Linked DNA regions of Homo sapiens. The protein of the gene in region 5 purifies or fractionates together with the protein of the main gene of each other region. This does not show direct contact. Each region holds a gene or a part of one and is shown on either strand. Other genes may lie near its edges.

Region 1 (3,500 bases), on a different chromosome or scaffold from region 5:
TCCAGTGGCAGGTAAGGGTCAGCTGGGGGAGGGCGTGGGGAGAAGCACACAGGGGCACAGGTGGCTGCGTGTCACCTTCCTTTATTGTCCCCTCCTTCTCCAGATGTGGACACTCCTGCCTGGGTTCTGCACAAGGCCTACAGATGTGGCCATCTCCTTCAAAGGGCTGGCACGGACGCTGGGCATGGCCATCAGCGAGCGTCCAGACCTGAGGGTCACCGTGTGCCAGGCCCTGCGCACCCTCATCACCAAGGGCTGCCAGGCAGGTACGTGTGGGCTGTGGGAGTGGGGGCTGGGGAGGATGACACAGGTCCCTGGCCCCATCCCCTGGCTTGCTACACTCCTTGCCAGGCAGAGCCACAGAAACTCACCTCTGGAGCTCATCCTTTGCTGCTTCTGCTGCAGACCCCAGGGGATAACTTTGCTGGCTCCCTGGGGTTGGAGCCATCGAGGACCATGGGCCACTGGGGCACCAGGCTCTCCATGCCCTGGCTCAGCTTCTGCCACAGAGAGCCCCAAACCCATGGATTCCAAGTCCTGCCAGCTCCCCCAAGAGAGGGCCTCTGGGCCACAGCCCCAGCAGCCACTGAGGCACAGTCAGCTCCTGTGCCTTTAGTGCAAACTTTGATCCTTTTACCAGAGGCTGACCGTGCTGAAGTGAGTCGCTTTGCCAAGAACTTTCTGCCGATCCTCTTCAACCTGTATGGGCAGCCCGTGGCAGCCGGGGACACTCCAGCCCCTCGCCGGGCTGTGCTGGAAACCATCAGAACTTACCTCACCATCACTGACACTCAGGTGAGCCACGGAAGGGAGGGAAGGAGGGAGGAGGGGAGCTCTCAGGTGGGCAGGGTCAGAGAGGCCGAGACCCTACCCACCAGGGCTCACGTGGGTCTCTGTGTTTTGGAGCACATACCAGCAGTCATGGCTTGGGCAGGGCTGGGGGCTGATGGGGAGGCCGCTCTGGGACTGCTGCCATTGCTGCTTTCTTTCGCTCCTCCCCAATGACTCTCTTCTCCTCATTCCCTCGGGGCCACAAGTTGGTGAACAGTCTCCTGGAAAAAGCCAGTGAGAAGGTGCTCGACCCTGCCAGCTCTGACTTTACCAGGTAACATGCTCAGGGCCTCCCACTTGAGCTGGAGCAGCCCAGGGAGCTGGAGGGTGCATCTGGCAGAAGCACTGTGGGTTCCCTCTTGCATTATTTAAGGAAGCCTTGAAGTATTAACTCTCCAGGCTGTGCTGAGAGGCTGTGCTGACTAGTTCCTTCTTCCTGGAGAGGCCATTTAGTCTGGTAGGGAGGAACAAGGACCCAGGAGATACACTGCCCAGGTTCTGATCCCAGCCCCGTCACTCATGGGCTGTGTGACCTTGGACAAATTACTTATCCATTCTGCCTCTAAGGCCTCATCTGTAAAATGGGCACGATAATAGTTCTTGCAACAAGGTTGCTATGAGGATTGAAGGAGTTAGCAGGTGTAAAACACCAGGAACGGTGACTGGTACATCATGAATGCTCAGTTAGGTACTAGCTATTATTATTGTTCATGAGCTCCTTCAAGCCCCTTGTCCTCACCCTGACTTCTCCCACCTCCCCATACCCAGTAGACGTAAGAACACTGGTAGTCTGCGCCCTTCTCCAGCTCCCCATCCCTCTCCTTGTCCTCCTGCCCCGAGCAGATTGTCTGTCCTGGACCTGGTCGTGGCCTTGGCTCCGTGTGCTGACGAAGCTGCCATCAGTAAGCTATACTCCACCATCCGGCCCTACCTAGAGGTGAGCCTCGGGGGCCAGGAGCGCCACACAGCCACGCTTGGGGGCAGATGGGCTGTGGGAAGGTGGGGCCTGTCTTCATGTCTTTGTCCCTTGCTGCTTCCCGAGATCAGGTCCCTGTCTGCTTTCTCCTGCAGTGGCTTCTCTTTGTGTCCTGTGTAGCCCATCTGTCTTGCAGGTCCCAAAGGGACTGAAATGCACAGCTGTGCTTAGGCCTTGCGTGCTGAGTGACTCTTGTAGAACCAAGGCCATGCTCCTTTGCCTGGCTCACTCCCCAGGCCCATCCCAGACCGGCCTGAGCTTTATCCCACCCAGTCCACTCTCTACTTCTGCTGCAGCCTCCTTCAGCTGCCTTAAGCCTCCCTGATATAACAGGCCCTGTCTGTGCCTTTGCAGGGTTTGGGTCCTCAGCTTGAAATGCCCTCTGCTGTGGCCAGCAACCCTGCAGATCTCAGCCCAGCAGTGACCCCCTGAAAGCTGCCCCCATTGCCACAGTTTAGTAGCAGTTACCTAACAGTGTGAGAAGTGCTCTGGGGCAGCACTGCAGGTGGACATGGAAATCCAGGGCCAGGCCACGTCACCTCAGGAAAGGTGTCCGGCGTTGGGGGTTGGGGGAGTGTGACAGAGAGCTGGTTTGGAGGAGCAAGGAGTTGTCAGTCTTGGAAGGAGAGAGAAGAGTGCTCCGGCTAGAAAGAGCAGCAGATGTGCAGGCCTTGGCGCGTGCCAGGCACCATGAGCTCAGGCCACTGGAGTGAGCACTGTCCAGAGCTGGGTGAGTGGAGTGGATTGGTGGGCCCCACGGCACACACCCCCAACCCCTGTGCCTCGCCCAGGAGTTAGCCACTCGCTGTCCACATTCCACTGGTCCTCTGTCAAGCCACATGAGCCCCCACGGACCCCTGCTCAGAATCCCTCCAGTGCTGGGGGATGCTCCGTGGATAGCATTGGACAGGGAGTGAGCCCCAGGCCTCCCTCACCGGTTCCTGTCTGCCAGAGCAAGGCCCACGGGGTGCAGAAGAAGGCCTACCGAGTGCTGGAGGAGGTGTGTGCCAGTCCTCAGGGCCCCGGGGCCCTCTTCGTGCAGAGCCACCTGGAGGACCTGAAGAAGACACTGCTGGACTCGCTGCGGAGCACCTCCTCACCCGCCAAGAGGGTGAGGGCTCTAGGGCCACCCGCTCTGCCGAGGGAGCCTGGGCAACACCAGGAAAGGAGCCACTGTTGAGGCTTGTTGGGTGGAGGTAGCATTGAGGGGTCCTGACTGGTAGCCCTTTGCCCACAGCCCCGTTTGAAGTGCCTCCTACACATCGTGAGGAAGCTCTCAGCTGAACACAAGGAGTTCATCACTGCCCTCATCCCAGAGGTGAGTGTGCGGGTGTGTTTTAGAGGGGGGTCCCTGGAATGTGGCTCTTAAGGGCCTCAGGATCCAGGGAGGGCAGTGATGGGAGTGGGAGGACTCGATTCGCTTCCCGGGCAGATGGCTCAGGGAGCAGATGCTGATGGAGTTGTCTTGGCCAGGTGATCCTGTGCACCAAGGAGGTGTCGGTGGGCGCACGGAAGAACGCTTTTGCACTGCTCGTGGAGATGGGCCATGCTTTCCTAAGGTTTGGCTCGAACCAGGAAGGTGAGGCCCAGGGGGCTGGGGGTGGACACTCTGCTCATAGACTGGGTGGGGGGAAGCACCCCTCAAAAAAGGTGGGGAGAGCTCTGTGCCCTGGCCCTGGGCAGGCTGCTCCTC
Region 2 (3,500 bases), on a different chromosome or scaffold from region 5:
ACAATCAACTACCCATGTAATCAAATGCAGAGAAAACAGGTAACAGTATATATGCAAAATATAATTTTTAATAATAGCATATTATATACTACCGTTACTACATTCCCCATATCATAATTAACAGCACCAATGCAGGAAAAGAATTAAAATATAAAAGACAAACCACAAAGAGTAGTTTACTACTATGAGAAGAAAAAGGGACTCCACAAGGAAACAAGTATGCATCAGAAGTGGACAGTCTCAAAATAATATTATTCATCAATGGTCACACCCTGATTTAATAATAAAATCAGCACCTAGTAAAACATTTCAAATCCAGAGTTCAATCTAGTTACTGAAAGAGGAAACAAGAATATGTGGCAAGACAACCTGGGCCATACCAGTAAGACAACTCTAAAGACTATCCAATTCCATCAGATTTGTCAGCTTCAGAATCTTGATTTTTTTTGACTAACAAAGCTTTCTTCCAAAAGCATAAAGCATATCAATCAACATTCATCTTACTTAATATTACCTGTGGATTAATGTTTCCAAGGTATAAATTAGTAGTGCTTGGATCTCCTACATCATGTGAGCCAGGTGCGTAATCATCAAGAACTAGGGCAGAAAGAAAAAAAGAATTATAACCTGCAAAACATAAAGTTTGGAAAATTTATCGATTAAAAGAGCAAAAAACTGTATTACCACCAGATGATCTATTTCTTCTTGAAGGCGCGTCCACTTAAAGGGGAGAAAAGAAGACAATTATTAGTTTTTATAATACAGTAGTCCCCCCTTACCCTCACCTTTGTTTCCCCCAGTTTGTTACAGTAAGGTATTTCTGAGAGACAAAAAGAGAGACCACTTCACACAACTCTGTTGTTGTTGTTGTTGTTTTTTGAGACAGACTCTTGCTCTGTCGCCCAGGCTGGAGTGCAATGGCACGTTCTCGGCTCACTGCAACCTCTGCCTCTCAGGTTCAAGCAATCCTTCTGCCTCAGCCTCCTGAGTAGCTGGGATTACAGGCACGCACCACCACGCCCGGCTAATTTTGTATTTTTAGTACAGACAGGGTTTCATCATGTTGGCCAGGCTGGTCTCGAACTCCTGACCTTAGGTAATCCACTTGCCTCGGCCTCCCAAAGTGTTGGGATTGCACATAACTTTTATTTCAGTATATTGTTATAATTGTTCTATTACTTATTGTTGTTAATCTCTTACTGTGCCTAATTTACAAATTAATTTTTACCACAGCTATGAATGTGTAAGGAAAAGGATAGTATATATCCATGGTTTCAGACATCCACTGGTGATCCTTGGAATGTAACCCGCCACGGATAAGGTGGGAACTACTGTAATTAATCACAAGCATACACATTAAAATAAATGCCACTTACTAGAACGACGCTGACCATCAGAATCTGACTGAGGAGGTTCAAATCGACTTAATCTGCCTTTTGTTTTATGTCTCTCATCACGTTCCTCTTGAATTCTGTTGAAAATATTTACAATCACTTATAATGAGCCAAAATTTGTTCATTCACATTTCAGAATAGCGCTTATCAAATTACTATCATCAAATAACTAGAAATATCTGTAATTAAATACTGGTACTGATAACCAAGATTAGAGGGTCCCTCAGCTATAATACAACCACGAGCAAATTTCTGATATATCATACTACCAATGGAACACAAAGCCTACTTTAAAGGTGAGGAGGAAATTAAACACTAAAACCACTGAATTTGTTTCTTGCTAAGTCTAACTGCCCCTCACTCCCATCCCAGTGAGTATACTGTTTCCACTGCAAACAGGACTCTGGACATTAAGTAAATCAATTGAACTGAATCCTCGTAATGCAAGCAACCCAGGTGCTGGACTAAATGCTAATTTATTTTCAAAGATAGCCCACCAAATATTATAATATCTAAAACAATCTCATAGCAAACTGGTTAGTAATAACTAACTGGTACAGTATATTCTTTATACTTGCATCTGTTTATGTATCAGCTCAATACACCTATGATAGTTATTCTCCACACTATAAAACTTACTGCTTTAATTCTTCTTTGAAGAGTTCCAAATTGCTTTTTTTCTTTTCTTTCTCTCCTTTTTTAAGTGGCTATAAAGGATATGACAAGTTATACTTCAAACAAAAGGATAAGCAAAACCAATGATTCAATAATAAGAGCCTTTTTACATCATTTCAGTACAAATTGTATGTTCTAATTATTTAAATTAAAAAGGAAGAATGCTTTTCTTATCATTGAACCTCCCTTCCCCTTCCTTCAAAATAACAAACAATTAAATTATTACTACAATTAAACAATTAAAATGACAACCAGTAGTCAGGGAAATTAATGAACATGAAGTAACTGAACTGCCATGGAAAGTAACTGCCAAAAATACGCACTCTTCAAAAATCACCTCTGGAGGACATGAGTTACTGGAACAGTAAGTAACATCTTTGGAATCCTCTTTTAAAACTGCTTCTTAATCTACTTTTGGAATCCTTCTTTTAGAAGTGCCAACATAATTTAATAGGGAAGAATAATCTTTTCAACAAATGGTGCTTGGACAACTGAATATCTACATACAGAAAAATGAAGTTGGACTTCTACTTTACACCATATACTAAATGTACAAAAATTAACTCAAAATGGTTCATGGACATAAAAGTAAGAGCTAAAACTATAACACTTTTGGGAGAAAACCACAGGAATGAATATTCATAATCTTGAATTAGGTGATGGTTTCTTAGATATGACACCAAAAGCGTAAACAAAAGAAAAAAACTGATAAATTGGACTCCATTAAAGTTTAAAACCTCCATGCTTCCATCAAGAAAATGCAAAGACAACCCAGAGAACAGAAAACATTTCCAAATCATATAGCTGATAAGAACCTTGACTCAAGAAGATGTAAAATACTCTTACGATTCAACAACAAAAATACAAATAACCCAATTAAAAAGTGGGCCAAGTATCTGAACAGACATTTCTCCAAAAGAAACTTATAAATGGACAATAAACACATGAAAAGATGCTCAATATAATCAAGTACATGCAAATCAAAACCACAATGAAGTACAACTTCACACACACTAAAATGACTAAAATAAACTTTTCAAACAAAATAGTTTTGTTTGTTTGTTTGTTTGTTTTTGAGATGGAGTTTCGCTCTTGTTGCCCAGGCTGGAGTGCAATGCTGTGATCTTGGCTCACCACAACCTCTGCCTCCCGAGTTCAAGCGATTCTCCTGCCTCAGCCTCCCGAGTAGCTGGGATTACAGGCATGCACCACCATGCCCGGCTAATTTTGTATTTTTAGTAGAGACGGGGTTTCTCCATGTTGGTCAGGCTGGTCTCAAAGTGTTAGTGTACGACGTGAGAAAACTGGAACCCTCATACATTACTGGTGGAACTGTAAAGTGATACAACCACTTTGGAAAAACTGGCAGTTTCTCAAAAGGCTAAACATAGTTACCATGTGACCCAGCAATTCCACTTCTCGGTGTGTGTA
Region 3 (3,075 bases), on a different chromosome or scaffold from region 5:
TAGGACATTACTTCCTTATATGTATGAAAAGGATGCGTGTTCTTACTTGGATGTAAAATTCTGGTATAATCTCGGTTAAACCAAACGTGCTACTTATGTTACCTAAATCCTGTTATACTTATTAATCTGATGATCTCTGAGAAGTTGTAATGTCTCTTACTTTTTAGTATGGTTTTGATCAAAATGCAAATCTGACCTACTTCCCCTGCCCAGCTTCCAACCCTGCTGTGGCTCCCCAGTGCCCTCAGGAGGACACCCATGGCTCAGCCAAGAATGCTGTGCTTTAAGAACAAAAAAGCTCTACTGGGGTGCCTGCTGGCTGCTCAGCCCTTCTCATGACACTCTCTAAGCCCCACTACTTCTATTACAGTTACACTAAACTGAAAAGGGAAAGGTTTTGCTTATAAATATTCTTCCTGCCAATAATATTCCCACTCACCCCTTGCCTAACACTTCATTGCCCCTTGGGTCTCAGCTCACAGGTCCCTTTCTCCAGGAAGCCTTCCCTGGGCCTGGCTGGGTCAGAGGGCTCCCCTCTCTTAGCACTGATCCCACTGCCTGGGCTTCCCTGCTTCCAGCGCTGGTCCCCACTGGCTCTCCTTCTCTAGTGATGTCTCCATTCCCTCCTCCTCTGGACCAGGAGCTCCCTGAGAACCCTGGGTCTGTTGGTGTGTCCCCAGCATTGCCTGCCACAGGGCTGAGCCAGAGGAGCTTCTCAGTGGTAAATTTTCATGGAATGAACCAGGGGAGAGGCCCCCACATCTCCAGGAGGGCTCCCCAGACTCTTCTCCAGGATTTCTTGATGCTGAGAGTGCACACACACACACGCATGCACACACACACCTTGTCCCAAGTGCCCCTGTCCCCCATGACACACACCCCCATCTCTCTCTCCCACAGCTGTGGCCCCCCAGAGGGCCCCTATCCTGCGTCCAGCCTTCGTCCCCCACGTGCTACAGAGAGCAGGTGAGGGGCCAGGGTCATCATCCCTGCCACATAACTCCCCCCAGGCCCTGGAACTCCCCACTAACACCCTGACAGATTCCGCTCTCTCCTCTGCAGCAGCCGGCCCCCGCCCTATGGCCCTACGGCCCCCTCACCAGGCCCTCGTGGGCCCCCCTCTGCCTGGGCCCCCTGGACCACCCATGATGCTGCCACCAATGGCTCGGGCTCCAGGGCCCCCGCTGGGCTCCATGGCTGCACTGAGGCCCCCTCTGGTGAGTGTGAACAGGGAACTAACGGTCAGATGTGCGGTGGACGGGGAGACCATCCATCCTGGCCCAATGGGCTATGTCTGAGTTGGCCTCTCTCCTGACTTTCTGTTTCTCTACCTTCTCACTCTGCCTTTGTCTCTGTCTCTTTCTGCATCTTTCTGTGGCAAAATCTGTTCTCTCCTTTTGTGAAGGGAGTACAGAGAGAAACATGCTATTGGAATATTTCTCTTTTGATTGTTACTGATGTTCTTGTCTGTGGCTGTCTCTCTCTGCCTGTGTTTCTCCTTCTCTGTGTTTGTCTGGCTGGAGACTCTCTGCTTGGGTGTCTCTTGGCTGCTCTCTGGCCCCCAGGCCCTTTCTTTGTTGGATGGAATGGAGATGACAGTAAAGTCTGAGCCTGTGAGCCGGCCCCCCTCATGCTCTCCTCTTACCCACAGGAAGAGCCAGCAGCACCCCGAGAGCTGGGCCTAGGCCTGGGGTTGGGCCTGAAAGAGAAGGAAGAGGCAGTGGTGGCGGCGGCGGCTGGGCTGGAGGAGGCTAGCGCGGCTGTGGCCGTGGGGGCAGGAGGTGCCCCAGCTGGCCCTGCAGTCATTGGGCCCAGCCTGCCGCTGGCCCTGGCCATGCCATTGCCCGAGCCTGAGCCCCTGCCCCTCCCGTTGGAGGTCGTCCGCGGCCTCCTGCCCCCGCTGCGCATTCCTGAACTCCTGTCCCTGCGTCCTCGGCCCCGGCCCCCTCGGCCAGAGCCACCCCCAGGCCTCATGGCTCTTGAGGTAAGCAGGGAGCCTAGCGGTGAAGGGACAGAAGGGACGGGGGGCAGACAGGAGCCCAGGAACTTCCACACAGACAGACCGGACAGCAGGAGGACCTGGGGGAGGGAGGCGGACACATGTGCCCCACATCCAGAAGCACATCCAGCCCTTACTGTGGTGGCAGGAGGGCCGGGGACCAAAGGACAGTGGGAGACCCCAATACCAACCCCTTTGCACCTCTCCCCTTTCCTCTGCAGGTCCCAGAGCCCCTGGGTGAAGACAAGAAGAAGGGGAAGCCAGAGAAATTGAAACGGTGCATTCGCACAGCGGCAGGGAGCAGCTGGGAGGACCCCAGCCTGCTGGAGTGGGATGCAGGTAAGCTGCTGAAGCTCGAGGTCAGGCGTGGCTCGGCCAAGGTCAGACCAGGCTGCTGTCCTTGGGCTGCAGACTGGGAGGGTGAACCCTCTCAGTAGGGTGGGCGCTGTTGTTAGCCCACCTTGGGGAGGGGAGGCTATGGCTCAGGGGCTGGTTCTTCACCTAGCCATGGGCCGGAGCTTGGTGGAGGTGACGGGGACATGGGGCTTTGTAGCCTGTTTTACTCATGAGGTGCCTGGCTTCAGAGAGCATTCTTTTTTTTTCCCAACTCTTAGGATAAAAATTTTTTTTTTTTTTTTTTATGAGACAGAGTACCACTCTGTCGCCCAGGCTGCAGTGCAGTGGCGCAATCTTGGCTCACTGCAGCCTCCGCCCCCCAGGTTCAAGTGATTCTCCTGCCTCAGCCTCCCAAAGTGCTGGGATTACAGGCATGAGCCACTGTACCTGGCCGGGAAAAATTTTAAACACAGATGGCACAGTAAACACCCGTCTACCCACCACCTAGATTCTGCAATTAACATTTTGCTGTGTTCACTTTTTTCCTCTTTGTGTATGTATCTGGTTTCTTTGTTTTTAGCTCAGTCATTTGAAGCAAGTTATAAGTGAATTAATCACTTCTAAATATCTCAGTATTTATCTCCTAAGAAAAGAGATATTTTGGCCAGGCACGGTGGCTCACACCTGTAATCCCAGCACTTTGGGAGGCGGAGGCAGGTGGATCACTTGAGGTCAGGAGT
Region 4 (2,756 bases), about 57 Mb from region 5:
GGGGGCGGGGCCTGCTGAGCTGAGCCTGGCTGTTGGCTGGGACACTCCTGTGGCTCCTGTGGCCCACCCAACCAGGAGGAGTCTGCCTGGGGGGCTCGATGGGGCAGGGCTGCCTGCCTGGACCTTGCTGGCGTATGCTGGGCCGGGCAGGGCTGCTCACTGGTCCTTGCCCCTAGTTGGTGGTGGGAGGCCTGCTGTCTCCTGAGGAGGACCAGAGCCTGCTCCTGTCCCAGTTCCGGGAGTACCTGGACTACGACGACACCCGCTACCACACCATGCAGGCAGCCGTGGATGCCGTGGCCCGGGTCACTGGCCAGCACCCCGAGGTGGGTGATGGGGTCCTGTCGCCAGCATCATGCTGTTGCCTCCCAGGGAGGCAGGGACTGGGGGGCGGCGTCCAGGCACTCAGGCCAGGCTCCGCAGGTGCCCCCCGCCTTTTGGAACAATGCCTTCACGCTGCTGTCTGCCGTGAGCCTGCCCCGCCGGGAGCCCACCGTCTCCAGCTTCTATGTGAAGCGGGCGGGTGAGTGTGCTGAGAGTCAGGGGCGGACAGGGCTGAGCCTTGGTCTGCCTCCCCTGCGGGTCAGGTGACCTTTGCCCTCGCTTTCCCTGCAGAGCTGTGGGACACCTGGAAGGTTGCTCACCTGAAGGTGAGTTGCTTCTGGAGAGCCGGGCACCCTCCCGGGTTTGGGGGTGTGTGTGGGGTGCATGTGAGACCCCATGGAGGCTGCCGCCTTCCTCACCAGAGGAAACTCCCAGGGTACAGGTGGCAGCTTGCACGGCCACCAGGTCACTCGAAGTGTGGGAGGTGACGAGACCTGTGAACTCGGGACCCTCCCTTGGGTCAGAGGCCACCGCCGCCTCTTGGAGTCAAGCCTCTGGTGCCACCTGTGGGCCCCGTGGGCTGTTTTGGGCGCAGCCCCCCTCTTGGCCATGGTCTTGCCAAAGCTGCTTTCTTGGCTGTTCTGAGACTCCAGCCTCGAGGGCAAGGCGTACCTGACTTGAATGGGGACAGGAAGAAGGAAGGCAGGGTCAGAAAAGTGGAGAGCAGGCTTGTGTTGGCTCAGGCTGGGCTTCGGGGTGCCCTGGCAGCTGCTCGGGCTCTGGTCTGGGGTGGGGAGGGCGGCGAGTGCAGTCTGGACCCCGTTGCAGGAGCACAGGAGGGTTTTCCAGGCCATGTGGCTCAGCTTCCTCAAGCACAAGGTAGGGGCCAGGCCGGGGAGGGGGCGGGGGCGGCATCCGGGTCTCCCCCAGGGCGGAGGCCTCACCCCGACCCGCCGGCCCCCGCCCACCCGCCCCTCACCCCCACCTGCCGGCCCCCGCCCAGCTGCCCCTCAGCCTCTACAAGAAGGTGCTGCTGATTGTGCATGACGCCATCCTGCCGCAGCTGGCGCAGCCCACGCTCATGATCGACTTCCTCACCCGCGCCTGCGACCTCGGTGAGTGCCGCCGCCTCGCTCACACCACACCCCTAATCCCCTCGGTGAGTGCCGCCGCCTCACTCCTACCACACCCCTAATCCCCTCGGTGAGTGCCGCCGCCTCACTCCTACCACACCCCTAATCCCCTCGGTGAGTGCCGCCGCCTCACTCACACCACACCCCTAATCCCCTCGGTGAGTGCCGCCGCCTCACTCCTACCACACCCCTAATCCCCTCGGTGAGTGCCGCCGCCTCACTCCTACCACACCCCTAATCCCCTCGGTGAGTGCCGCCGCCTCGCTCACACCACACCCCTAATCCCCTCGGTGAGTGCCGCCGCCTCGCTCACACCACACCCCTAATCCCCTCGGTGAGTGCCGCCGCCTCGCTCACACCACACCCCTAATCCCCTCGGTGAGTGCCGCCGCCTCGCTCACACCACACCCCTAATCCCCTCGGTGAGTGCCGCCGCCTCGCTCACACCACACCCCTAATCCCCTCGGTGAGTGCCGCCGCCTCGCTCACACCACACCCCTAATCCCCTCGGTGAGTGCCGCCGCCTCGCTCACACCACACCCCTAATCCCCTCGGTGAGTGCCGCCGCCTCGCTCACACCACACCCCTAATCCCCTCGGTGAGTGCCGCCGCCTCACTCACACCACACCCCTAATCCCCTCGGTGAGTGCCGCCGCCTCACTCACACCACACCCCTAATCCCCTCGGTGAGTGCCGCCGCCTCGCTCACACCACACCCCTAATCCCCTCGGTGAGTGCCGCCGCCTCACTCCTACCACACCCCTAATCCCCTCGGTGAGTGCGGCCGCCTCACTCACACCACACCCCTAATCCCCTCGGTGAGTGCGGCCGCCTCGCTCACACCACACCCCTAATCCCCTCGGTGAGTGCCGCCGCCTCGCTCACACCACACCCCTAATCCCCTCGGTGAGTGCCGCCGCCTCGCTCACACCACACCCCTAATCCCCTCGGTGAGTGCCGCCGCCTCACTCCTACCACACCCCTAATCCCCTCGGTGAGTGCCGCCGCCTCGCTCATACCACACCCCTAATCCCCTCGGTGAGTGCCGCCGCCTCACTCACACCACACCCCTAATCCCCTCGGTGAGTGCCGCCGCCTCGCTCACACCCCTAATCCCCTCGGTGAGTGCCGCCGCCTCGCTCACACCACACCCCTAATCCCCTCGGTGAGTGCCGCCGCCTCGCTCACACCACACCCCTAATCCCCTCGGTGAGTGCCGCCGCCTCGCTCACACCACACCCCTAATCCCCTCGGTGAGTGCCGCCGCCTCGCTCACACCACACCCCTAATCCCCTCGGT
Region 5 (4,247 bases):
GTTAAATGCATAAAATACATAGGATTATAAAGGAAACCAATTAAATTGAAATAGTTATCAAAATGTTTAAAACAAGATTTGTGATAAAGTAATATGTGCTTCTCTATTAAGATCTACCGGGGGCTATTAGTTTCAATGCAGTGATGAACACAAACTATATTTTGAGTTCTCTGCAGCAAGTGGAATGTGGTATGAAAATATCTGATATTTACAAAGATGATACTGCTAAGTCAGAGTCACGTTTATTGCTAATATGATGGTGGAGTGTTGTCTTCATTCATAATGAAAGGAAATGTTATTTTTAATAGAGGTTAGTGAAAATAAAAATAAAACTATTTTCTAATCAAAGTTTATGGTCCTCCTCTCCCCAGCACTCTACAATTACCTCCAAAGTTGAGAACTCTCACCTTAGACACACAACTTTATAACGATACCTTATTTCCAACCCCAAATCTATGTTCTTATCTCATTTTGCTCCAAATTTTAAGTTGCTTCAGAAATTTAATTAGCCCTCTGCTTACTCTACACCATGGAAAAAAGGTAATATAGTAGAAATTCTGATAGCAATTTCAAAAGATGTCCAAAATAGACATTAATCATTGGAATGTCTTTCATTGTTAATAAGCACAGTATTAAGTGGTTTAAGTTCTAGAATGATTTTAATAAAGTCATTTATGATACTTAGTTGTGCATTCCAAACTGTAAAGGAAAAGGTAAAAAATGCTACTTAAAAATAAGCTAAAAACCAAGACAGTCGGTGAGGTCTGTGGAAATGGTAGTATTCATCTTGGGAGAAACATGCTACTGGAAAGGCCTGGATTTGTCTAGATGGGAGTCATTAAGACTGTGGGACCTAAAGTATTCAGCACAATAAAGCAACAGGACATTTCAATGTTTTCCCTGGTAGCCTGAGAGAGAAGAGGGTTGGGGTTATGGGACCCAGGGGAAGACCGAAGACAAATCTTTAAAGAAAAAGATAAATATGGGTAAGGGTCCCTAAGGCAGTGACGGCCTAAGCACACTGGTACTATCTTGACTATCTTGTGGTCAAAGTTATTTCCTCTTCTGTGCTATAATCCTCTCCTCCACTAATCCACTCTGAGTAAAGATCTGTTACACACCATACCCTTGTTCATGGTGCCCAGGGGAAATGAAGAGGAGAGTATTACAGGCAACTGGAAGATTAAGCATCCCAGACCCCATTCTGAGGTATCAGAAATATTGAGGAGGATACTGGACTTCCTAAGATTATGTGGAATGGGGGCCTACAACTTTTTGTGTATAGGAAAATAATACCTCAGAGGGCAGAGGGCAAAGGGAAATGAGGACATTCCTAACTGGTCTCTCTGTTTTACCTTTTATGCTCCTCTAATCCATTTTCCATCCAGACTGATGTCCAAATTTAAAGGTCTCATCGCTCCCCTGCTTAATATACTTGAATGACTTCTTATGTAAACTTTGTCATGATCTAAAAGTTCCCGCTAGATCTGCAACTGCCTTCCTCCCCCCGTTTCATCTGTTTAGCAGACCGAGGGCACCAGTCTCTGTGGTTTAAACTTGCCAAACTTTTCTTCACGGAAGTTTTGCTGTTCTTTTCTCCACTAGACAGCTGTTCCAGAAGTTCTTATGTCTGATTCCTTCTCATTCTTCATGCCTAAGCTTAAATATAACACAAGAAGCCCTTCCCTGATTATTCTAAACAGGGGCCTTGCCTATTGATAGTTTCTATTACAGTATTATTTATAGTTCCTTAATTGCCCCATAATGATGCAGTTATTTTACTTGTATTTTTATTATCTGTTTGCCCCATAAATATTACTCTCATAAAGACAGAGACTGCCCTGTTCTCCTTTGGAGCTCAGTAAAACAAATATTTGTTGAATAAATGAATATTTGAAGTTAGTCTTTATGGAAGCATTATAACTTTGGTTGTAAGTTTTATAATTTAATATTGTTTATAACTCTGAAGATAAGTGAGTCTAAACCAGGAAAATTTACATTTATACTTTAATGAATAAAAATCATGAATACTTACAAAACATTCACTATTGCCAAGCATTATATATACCTAGTATTTTACAAAGCCTTCTCTTGTCACTTTCATAGCTACTCTAAGTGATGGGTCCTGTAACCCTGATCTATTGGAGGTTAAACTGAGATTCAGAGTTAACTTGTCCAGGGTCACACAGTAAATTAATTGTATCTTAACCATTAAAAATGTCATATGAGGCCGGGTGTAGTGGCTCATGCCTATAATCCCAGCACTCTGGGAGGCTGAGGCAGGTGGATCACTTTAGCCCAGGAGTTGGAGATGAGCCTGGGCAATATGGCAAAACTCTGTCTCTACAAAAAAATTAACTGGGCATGGTGGCATGTGCCTGTAGTCTCAGGTACTAGGAAGGCTGAGTTGGGAGGATTGCTTGAGCCTGGGAGGTTAAGCCTGCAGTGAACCGTAAGCGAGCCACTGTACTCCAGCCTGGGTGACAGAGTGAGAGACCCTGTCTCAAAAAAAAAAAAAAAAGTCATGAAAAGTTACCACTAACTGAATTATGGCTTTGTCTAGTTTTTTCTGGGTTTTCTTTATTTTCCAACTCTTAAGATATTAAGTCAAAGCTGTCATCTTCAGAATGACGCTTTGTCTCCTCCTTCACACCTACAGCACTCAGTCAGAGTATCGAGCATGTCTTCTGCACATTACACCAGGGAAATGGCTTTCTTTCAGCCAATCTCCAGGAATCCAAAAATTCAAAGGCAACAAATTAAAGATCATTATATATATTGCAAATGGTTAAAAACCTTTAAAATATAAAAACTTTTATAAATAAGAAAATCTAGTAGAAAAATGGTCAGCCCACATGATTCACAGAAAAAGGAATATAAATAGACAATTATGTGAAGAAATTTATAATTACTAGTAATCACAGAGATGCAAAAGAAAGCAAATGAAATGCCATTTCCATCAAATTAGAAAATACTAAGAAATTATAATACCTAGTACTGATGGTGAAATACAAATTGATATAATGGTGGAATGTAATTTGGCAATATGTACTTAAAACAAAAATGGTCACAGTCTTTACGTGCTAGTATCTCAAGGAATTATAGGGAAATAGAAGTGACTGAAGATACATATATGAGGTTGTTCATCATATATTAAATGAAAATATAGTGAACAATCTAAATTCTTCAACAGGATGGTGGTACCATCAAGAGCATGGACTCTGGAGCTAGACAGCCAGATCAAAGTCCATCAGTGATAGTCACTAACTGTAGAACTTTGGGCAGGTTGCTGACCCGTGTGTGCCTTGCTGTTCTCATTTGCCAAACAGGGGTAGTAATAGGAGCCATCTCATAAACTTCTGGTGAAGATTAAGTTAATATATGTGAAGCACTTTAACAGTGCTGAGAGCATTGTAAGCATTATATAAACAATCTATCATTTTTATGATTAAAATCACTTAAAATTTTGAAAAGGAAAATTTTTCACAGCATAATTTTAAGTGAAAAATAGAAAATGTATATTTTCAGTATGATCAGATTTCTAAATATGTGTATGACACAAGCACACATATGTAAGTTTAAAGAAAGTAGGAGGAAGGTGTTTGCCCTGTTTCCCAAAGTGGGAACTATATCTGTTTTAAAAACAACTGTCAAAAGTAAATGAAATAGGTTATATAAGTTGAGGAATCTGTTTTGCTTTGAAAATTGTGTAAAATTGCCAAGTTTCTAATAAACCAATAAATATAACATCAGTTCTTCCACTTTGTGGTATTACCATATACAATTTATGTCCCTGATGAATATTTTAGTCTTACCACTCTTAAAAATATGTGCGTATGTATTTAGGTAGTATATATAAAGGATGTACACACACACACACACCCTCTCTCTCTCCAAGAAAAATGTACCAGAATGTTAATTAAGTATATCTCTGGGCAGAAGAATTAAAGGTTATGTTAATTTTTTATTTATACTTTATCCAGATTTTCTATAATGAAGAGGAATACTGCTAAAATGTTTTTTTTTGTTGTTGTTTTTTTTTGCGGGGGGGGGGGGGCGTTTCCTATAAACCGGTTGATTCAGGCACTTACCCTGGTCCGTAGTTGCATATAAAATGTGCTCCATTGGAAAGAGCGTCAAAGCCAGAAACTTTAGGGCAAAATTGAACTGCGCAGCCAACTTTGTAACTATCTGCCCAAACAACCTGAAAGGAAATAAGGATTTTTAACAGAGAAAAACCATAAGAT
Region 6 (3,500 bases), on a different chromosome or scaffold from region 5:
TATATAAAAAATATTAGCTGGGCGTGGTGGTGCATGCCCATAGTCCTAGCAGTGCTGGAGGCTGAGGCAGAAGGATTGTTTGATCCCAGGAATTTTGAGGTTACAGTGAGCTATGTTCATGCCAGTGCACACCAGCCTGGGCAACAGAGTGTGGCTCTGTCTCCAAAAAAATTTTTTTACAACAAATTTTAAAGTTTTTGTATTAAAGTTTTTATTTTATATATATCATATATAAACACACACACACATATACATATACATATACATATACATATACATATATATATACTTTTTTTTTTTTTGAGACAGGATCTTGTTCTGTCACCACTCTGGAGTGTGGTGGTGCAAATATGGCTCACTGCAGCCTCCACCTCCTGGATTCAAACGATCCTCCCATGTCAGCCTCCCAGTAGCTGGGACCAGGCTAGTGCCACCATACCTGGCTAATTTGTGTGTGTGTGTGTGTGTGTGTGTGTGTGTGTGTGTGTGTGTATAGAGACAGTGTCTCACTATTTTGCCCAGGCTGGTCTCGAGTGCCTGGGCTCAAGCATTCCTCTTGCCTCAGCCTCCCAAACTGCTGGGATTACAGGCATGAGCCACTAAGCCCAGCTCAGCATGATTTATTACTGTTAAATATTTAGACATTTGTATCCAAGCCTCCATTTATAACCTTGCTCTGGGCCCCACCAATTTTAGAGAAGGTCTACTCTGATTCCCTGAAATGTCTTCATTGTTTTCTTTTGCATGAATGTACACAATTTATATATTGATCTTCTTATTATTAAAATTGAGACTGGCCTCAGTAGCTAATATCTGTAATCCCAGTACTTCAAGAGGCCGAGGTGGGAGAATCTCTTGAAGTCAGGGGTTCGAGACCAGCCCGGGCAACATAGCTCCTACAAAAACATTAAAAAATAAAATTAGTTGGACACAGTGGCACACACCTGTGGTCCCAGTTACTCAGGAGGCTGAGGCGGGAGGATCACTTGAGCCTGGGAGGACAAGGCTGCGGTCAGGTGCAGTTGCGCCACTGCCCTCCAGCCTGGGCAATAGAATGAGACCCTGCCTCTGAAAAAACAAAGTAAAATTGATATTGTTTTAAGTATTTGCTATTAAACCATTATGCTTTGAACATTTTGGTATATGCTTCTTTGTGTACATGTACATGAGTTTCCCTAGAGATCTAGTAGTGGAATTTTGATTTTTTTTTTTTTTTATTGATCATTCTTGGGTGTTTCTCACAGAGGGGGATTTAGCAGGGTCATAGGACAATAGTGGAGGGAAGGTCAGCAGATAAACAAGTGAACAAATGTCTCTGGTTTTCCTAGGCAGAGGACCCTGCGGCCTTCCGCAGTGTTTGTGTCCCTGGGTACTTGAGATTAGGGAGTGGTGATGACTCTTAACGAGTCTGCTGCCTTCAAGCATCTGTTTAACAAAGCACATCTTGCACCGCCCTTAATCCATTTAACCCTGAGTGGACACAGCACATGTTTCAGAGAGCACAGGGTTGGGGGTAAGGTCATAGATCAACAGCATCCCAAGGCAGAAGAATTTTTCTTAGTACAGAACAAAATGAAGTCTCCCATGTCTACTTTCTACACAGACACAGTAACAATCCGATTTCTCTATCATTTCCCCACCTTTCCCCCTTTTCTATTCCACAAAACCGCCATCGTCATCATGGCCCGTTCTCAATGAGCTGTTGGGTACACCTCCCAGACGGGGTGGTGGCCGGGCTGAGGCGCTCCTCACATCCCAGACGGGGCGGCAGGGCAGAGGCGCTCCCCGCATCTCAGACGATGGGCGGCCTGGCAGAGACGCTCCTCACTTCCTAGACGGGATGGCGGCCGGGAAGAGGCGCTCCTCACTTCCCAGACTGGGCAGCCGAGCAGAGGGGCTGCTCACATCCCAGACGATGGGCGGCCAGGCAGAGACGCTCCTCACTTCCCAGACGGGGTGGCGGCAGGGCAGAGGCTGCGATCTCGGCACTTTGGGAGGCCAAGGCAGGCGGCTGGGAGGTGGAGGTTGTAGCTAGCCGAGATCACACCACTGCACTCCAGCCTGGGCAAGATTGAGCACTGAGTGAGCAAGACCCCGTCTGCCATCCCGGCACCTCGGGAGGCCGAGGCTGGCGGATCACTCGCGGTTAGGAGCTGGAGACCAGCCCGGCCAACACAGCGAAACCCCGTCTCCACCAAAAAAATACGAAAACCAGTCAGGCGTGGCGGCACGCGCCTGCAATCGCAGGCACTCGGCAGGCTGAGGCAGGAGAATCAGGCAGGGAGGTTGCAGTGAGCCGAGATGGCAGCAGTACAGTCCAGCCTCGGCTCCGCATCAGAGGGAGACGGTGGAAAGAGAGGGAGAGGGAGACCGTGGAAAGAGAGGGAGAGGGAGACCGTGGAAAGAGAGGGAGAGGGAGACCGTGGAAAGAGAGGGAGAGGGAGACCGTGGAAAGAGAGGGAGAGTGGAATTTTGATTCTTAAAGTTTTATGTGATAATGCCAAATTGTTTTCCGAAGTGTGTTTGCCAAGTTATACTCCCACCAGAAGAATAAGAGCCTTCCCTTGCCTCACATAGTGGCCAAGTGGTATCGTCAGCTTTTAAAAATTTGTGCCAATACAAGGAATGTGAAATTGTATCACTGTGGTTTTTTTTGTTTGTTTTTGTTTTTGTTTTTGTTTTTTTTTGAGACAGAGCCTCGGTCTGTCGCCCAGGCTGGAGTGCAGTGGTGCAATCTCGGTTCAGTGCAGTCTCCGCCTCCTGGGTTCACGCCATTCTGCCTCAGCCTCCTGAGTAGCTGGGACTAGAGGTGCATGCCACCACCCCTGGCTAATTTTTTTTTTTTGTATTTTGGGTAGAGACAGGGTTTCACCATGTTCGCTAGGGTGGTCTCGATCTCCTGACCTCGTGATCTGCCCACCTTGGCCTCCCAAAGTGCTGGGATTACAGGCGTGAGCCACCGCGCCCAGCCCTCATTGTGGTTTTAATTCTTTATATATTCTGGATCTCTAGCCCTTTTAAGTCTTATTACTCATTTTTTTAAGTTTGTCTTACTTGGCATCTTAGTAGTTGCTTCTTATTCGCATTTTACTTTTTTGGTCATCATAGCACTCTATTTTTGTTTGTAACAGTTTTTGTTTGTTTGTTTTTTACCATTTTAAAAATGGCTAAAACTATTTTTATTTATTTTTTGAGATAAAGTATTTATTTTTTGTTTGTTTTTTACCATTTTAAAAATGGCTAAAACTATTTATTTTATTTATTTACTTTTTTGAGGTTTATTTATTTATTTATTTATTTATTTTTTGTTCTGTCACCCAGGCTAGAGTGCAGTGGTGTGATCTCAGCTCACTGCAACCTCCGCCTCCTGGGTTCAAGCGATTCTCTTGCCTCAGCCTCCCAAGTAGCTGGGATTACAGGCACGCGCCACCATGCCTGGCTAATTTTTGTATTTTTAGTAGAGACAGGGTTTTGCCACATTGGCCAGGCTGCTCTTGAAC
Region 7 (3,500 bases), on a different chromosome or scaffold from region 5:
GTGGATGGTCTTGAACAGGTACTTTTTATCAATAACTGAAAACTGTAGGGATCTTACTTGGTGTTTTTATGTAATTGTTGGAAGGATCATTCAGAAAGCAAATGGGTTAATGAACTTTTAAAATGCTGTAGGTGAGGCATGACAGTTTACACACTGTGTTTATCAGTGCTCTTGATGAAATTACACAAGTTAGGAAATGGAAAATGTCCACTTGGTTCATTTGTATCTGTCTGCTTAAACGCTTTCTAGGGATATGTTGTTTGTCCTTCTGAAAAGAGATTCCTTCTGCTCTTTACATTCCTTAAGAAGAACCGAAAGAAGAAGCTTATGGTCTTCTTTTCATCTTGTATGTCTGTGAAATACCACTATGAGTTGCTGAACTACATTGATTTGCCCGTCTTGGCCATTCATGTAAGTGATGATGATGAGCTCATTGAAAACAGGGTATGCTTATTAAATCCTATAGATTGTAGGATTGGAGGTATTGCCCTCTCCTGGAAACATTGTTCTGAGTAGTTTGATCACCACTAGATGATGGATCCTGTGTGGGGGAGCGCTGCTGGGTGTGGAGGGGTATGAGGACTTTCGAAGAGTGCAAGACACCATCCTCCTTGAGGGGCTTGCGGAACAGTTGGGGAAATAGGACATAGGCCAAGGGATGAGCTCGAAATAGGGTAACAGTTCCACAATTTGGGGGTTCTACTGCTAGTCTTCCTCAAGATTCCAGCTCTAATGGATGTTTTTATTTAATTCTAGGGAAAGCAAAAGCAAAATAAGCGTACAACCACATTCTTCCAGTTCTGCAATGCAGATTCGGGAACACTATTGTGTACGGATGTGGCAGCGAGAGGACTAGACATTCCTGAAGTCGACTGGATTGTTCAGTATGACCCTCCGGATGACCCTAAGGTAACTGGCATCTTTGGAATATCTTCAGAATGACTCTGCATTAAAAGTTCACTTATTCTCCCAGTTCCCTGACGGAAACTGCATTCCACATTCAAGGTAAAGATCCCTACTATACAGTGACTGCAGTATTTCTCTGGTATTGAAAAGTACTTAAGGCTTTTCAGGGCTCAAACGGGCTGTGCCAGAGGATTGAAAAGGATCAGTGGGACTTAAGTTATGAAAATGAGATCCTTGGAATGATCTCTTAAGAACAGCAGATGCCTGAAGGAAATAAAATTGCTTAAGGAAGTAGATAAACTTCTGTAGTATATGTGGTAGAATAAGCTTCATTGAGAAGTATTTTCAACAAACACTGGATTAAAGCCGTTTTGATGATGAAGCACACATAATACTCATTTTATTAGATCGCTGTTAATGCAAACATCATGTCCAGCCTTTTTTTTTTTTTTTTTTTTTTTTTTTTGGGCCTCAATCATTGGCCTATTGGGGGTGATGTGCACAGAGCGATTGCTGGCCCAGCTTTGTGGGGGTGTGGTGAAGGTGTGTGTGGCCCAGCACCGTGGGACTACACCATCTCAGTACAGACATGCACATACTCAGGATGCAGATACGCAAATGGGCTCATGTGGAAGTCACTGCGTTAACTCAGATTTTCTTTCTCCACCAAAGGAATATATTCATCGTGTGGGTAGAACAGCCAGAGGCCTAAATGGGAGAGGGCATGCCTTGCTCATTTTGCGCCCAGAAGAATTGGGTTTTCTTCGCTACTTGAAACAATCCAAGGTAAAGATCTGTACTTGGAGAAAGATTTCTCTTGGTGTAGGGATTGTTAGCAAGCAACATTTCTACATGTGTCAGAGGAGTCTCGAGTCTGGCCAGTGCTGTTACAACCATTCTTATGGCAATTAAGCAAGTAAGGTTTTATGTACTTCTAGCCCAAGAAGTGAGCACAGAAGGAACTGCCCACATGGCTCGGCTTTCTAGCTCTGTTACCCAGCAACACCTCTGTGTCCCAGCCTCTCCTTTCCTGTTCCCTCCAGCCCTCTTTGAAACCTTCTCCACTCCTTTGAAGCTCCCTCACACCTAGTCATCTCTGCTTCTGCTCCCCTTCTTTCCTCTTACCTCATGTGAAGCAGTGGGGAATCCTTGTTCGCTCTAGCCTCTGCCTCCTCCCCTGCCCTCTGTCTCCTATTCATCAACTCTTGGCCTACAGTCTCTTCCTTGCGGTTGGCGCTTTACCATCTCAAATTTCTCACTGTAAAAAAGTAACTTCAACCTTAAACCTGTTCTTCTACCCCTGCCTGCAGGAGCTACTGTCTGTTGCCTTTCCTCAGTCAGCCTTACTGGAAAAATGGCTTATATTCTTGCCATTTACCTCCCTCTCAGTCCCTAACCAGCCTAATTTGGCTTTAGCTTTCTACTATCACACCAGAATTGAATCCATCAGGACCCTAAGTGGCCTCTTCATTGCTAGGCCATGTGGGGGATGCATATCAGGCCTTCTCCTGCCTGACATTTACATCCTCATTGGCCTTTCTGGCATAGTCTTGATGATAGGCTTCCTCTACCCTGTAACTGCAGGCAGTTCCCTGAAATTGCTCTACAGCTTTTGCACACTTTGTCCAGAATGCTTGGTTTCAGCTCGCCTCTGTCTTTGCTGGGAAGCCATCGCTGATCTCCTGCCTCCTTGTTCCCACAGCACAGGTGCTCATCAGGTTGACATTTCTTTCTTTCTTTCTTTTTTTATTATTATTACACTTTAAGTTCTAGGGTACATGTGCACCATGTGCAGGTTTGTTACATATGTATTCATGTGCCATGTTGGTGTGCTGCACCCATAAACTCGTCATATACGTTAGGTATATATCCTAATGCTATCCCTTCCCCCTCCCCCCACCCCACGACAGGCCCCGGTGTGTGATATTCACCACCCTGTGTCCAAGTGTTCTCATTGTTCATTTCCCACCTGTGAGTGAGAACATGCGGTGTTTGGTTTTCTGTCCTTGCAATAGTTTGCTCAGAATGATGGTTTCCCGTGTCATCCATGTCCCTACAAAGGACATGAACTCATCCTTTTTTATGGCTGCATAGTATTCCATGGTGTGTATGTGCCACATTTTCTTAATCCAGTCTGTCATTGATGGGCATTTGGGTTGGTTCCAAGTCTTTGTTATTGTGAATAAACATACATGTGCATGTGTCTTTATAGCAGCATGATTTATAATCCTTTGGGTATATACCCAGTAATGGGATGGCCGGGTCAAATGGTATTTCTAGGTCTAGATCCTTGAGGAATCGTCACACTGTCTTCCACAATGGATGAACTAGTTTACAGTCCCACCAACAGTGTAAAAGTGTTCCTGTTTCTCCACATCTCCTCCAGCACCTGTTGTTTCCTGACTTTTTAATGATCGCCATTTTAACTGGTGTGAGATGGTATCTCACTGTGATTTTTATTTGGATTTCTCTGATGGCCAGTGATGATGAGCATATTTTCATGTCTGTTGGCTGCCTAAATGTCTTCTTTTGAGAAGTGTGTGTTCATATCTTTCGCCCACTTTTTGATTGGGTTGTTTGATTTTTTCTTGTAA

The links.
Region 1: the proteins of KRR1 (region 5) and RRP12 purify together in Homo sapiens (affinity purification with mass spectrometry; 2 studies listed by BioGRID and IntAct, with this or other methods). This does not show direct contact.
Region 2: the proteins of KRR1 (region 5) and U2SURP purify together in Homo sapiens (co-immunoprecipitation; 2 studies listed by BioGRID and IntAct, with this or other methods). This does not show direct contact.
Region 3: the proteins of KRR1 (region 5) and RBM42 purify together in Homo sapiens (co-immunoprecipitation; 2 studies listed by BioGRID and IntAct, with this or other methods). This does not show direct contact.
Region 4: the proteins of KRR1 (region 5) and NOC4L purify together in Homo sapiens (co-immunoprecipitation; 3 studies listed by BioGRID and IntAct, with this or other methods). This does not show direct contact.
Region 6: the proteins of KRR1 (region 5) and ZC3HAV1 purify together in Homo sapiens (affinity purification with mass spectrometry; 2 studies listed by BioGRID and IntAct, with this or other methods). This does not show direct contact.
Region 7: the proteins of KRR1 (region 5) and DDX18 purify together in Homo sapiens (affinity purification with mass spectrometry; 3 studies listed by BioGRID and IntAct, with this or other methods). This does not show direct contact.

Annotation. Positions count from the first base shown.
Region 1 is NC_000010.11:97,370,341-97,373,840, reverse strand, and holds part of RRP12 (RRP12-like protein), read left to right. Parts: coding exon 1-11; intron 12-103; coding exon 104-266; intron 267-640; coding exon 641-795; intron 796-1,037; coding exon 1,038-1,105; intron 1,106-1,674; coding exon 1,675-1,768; intron 1,769-2,759; coding exon 2,760-2,918; intron 2,919-3,044; coding exon 3,045-3,125; intron 3,126-3,280; coding exon 3,281-3,386; intron 3,387-3,500.
Region 2 is NC_000003.12:143,018,570-143,022,069, reverse strand, and holds part of U2SURP (U2 snRNP-associated SURP motif-containing protein), read right to left. Parts: intron 2,102-3,500; coding exon 2,034-2,101; intron 1,472-2,033; coding exon 1,377-1,471; intron 721-1,376; coding exon 685-720; intron 598-684; coding exon 515-597; intron 1-514.
Region 3 is NC_000019.10:35,632,036-35,635,110, forward strand, and holds part of RBM42 (RNA-binding protein 42), read left to right. Parts: intron 1-900; coding exon 901-966; intron 967-1,041; coding exon 1,042-1,217; intron 1,218-1,651; coding exon 1,652-1,984; intron 1,985-2,220; coding exon 2,221-2,338; intron 2,339-3,075. UniProt on the Homo sapiens protein: Binds (via the RRM domain) to the 3'-untranslated region (UTR) of CDKN1A mRNA.
Region 4 is NC_000012.12:132,147,457-132,150,212, forward strand, and holds part of NOC4L (nucleolar complex protein 4 homolog), read left to right. Parts: intron 1-176; coding exon 177-326; intron 327-423; coding exon 424-523; intron 524-615; coding exon 616-650; intron 651-1,135; coding exon of another isoform or gene 1,136-1,152; coding exon 1,153-1,203; intron 1,204-1,327; coding exon 1,328-1,439; intron 1,440-2,756.
Region 5 is NC_000012.12:75,490,363-75,494,609, reverse strand, and holds the end of KRR1 (KRR1 small subunit processome component homolog), read left to right. Parts: 3' UTR 1-3,747; downstream 3,748-4,247. Other genes in the region: GLIPR1 (glioma pathogenesis-related protein 1 precursor), read right to left, coding at 4,092-4,204. UniProt on the Homo sapiens protein: Part of the small subunit (SSU) processome, first precursor of the small eukaryotic ribosomal subunit.
Region 6 is NC_000007.14:139,099,721-139,103,220, reverse strand, and holds part of ZC3HAV1 (zinc finger CCCH-type antiviral protein 1), read left to right. Parts: intron 1-3,500.
Region 7 is NC_000002.12:117,824,691-117,828,190, forward strand, and holds part of DDX18 (ATP-dependent RNA helicase DDX18), read left to right. Parts: coding exon 1-18; intron 19-249; coding exon 250-411; intron 412-756; coding exon 757-909; intron 910-1,578; coding exon 1,579-1,692; intron 1,693-3,500. UniProt on the Homo sapiens protein: ATP-dependent RNA helicase that plays a role in the regulation of R-loop homeostasis in both endogenous R-loop-prone regions and at sites of DNA damage.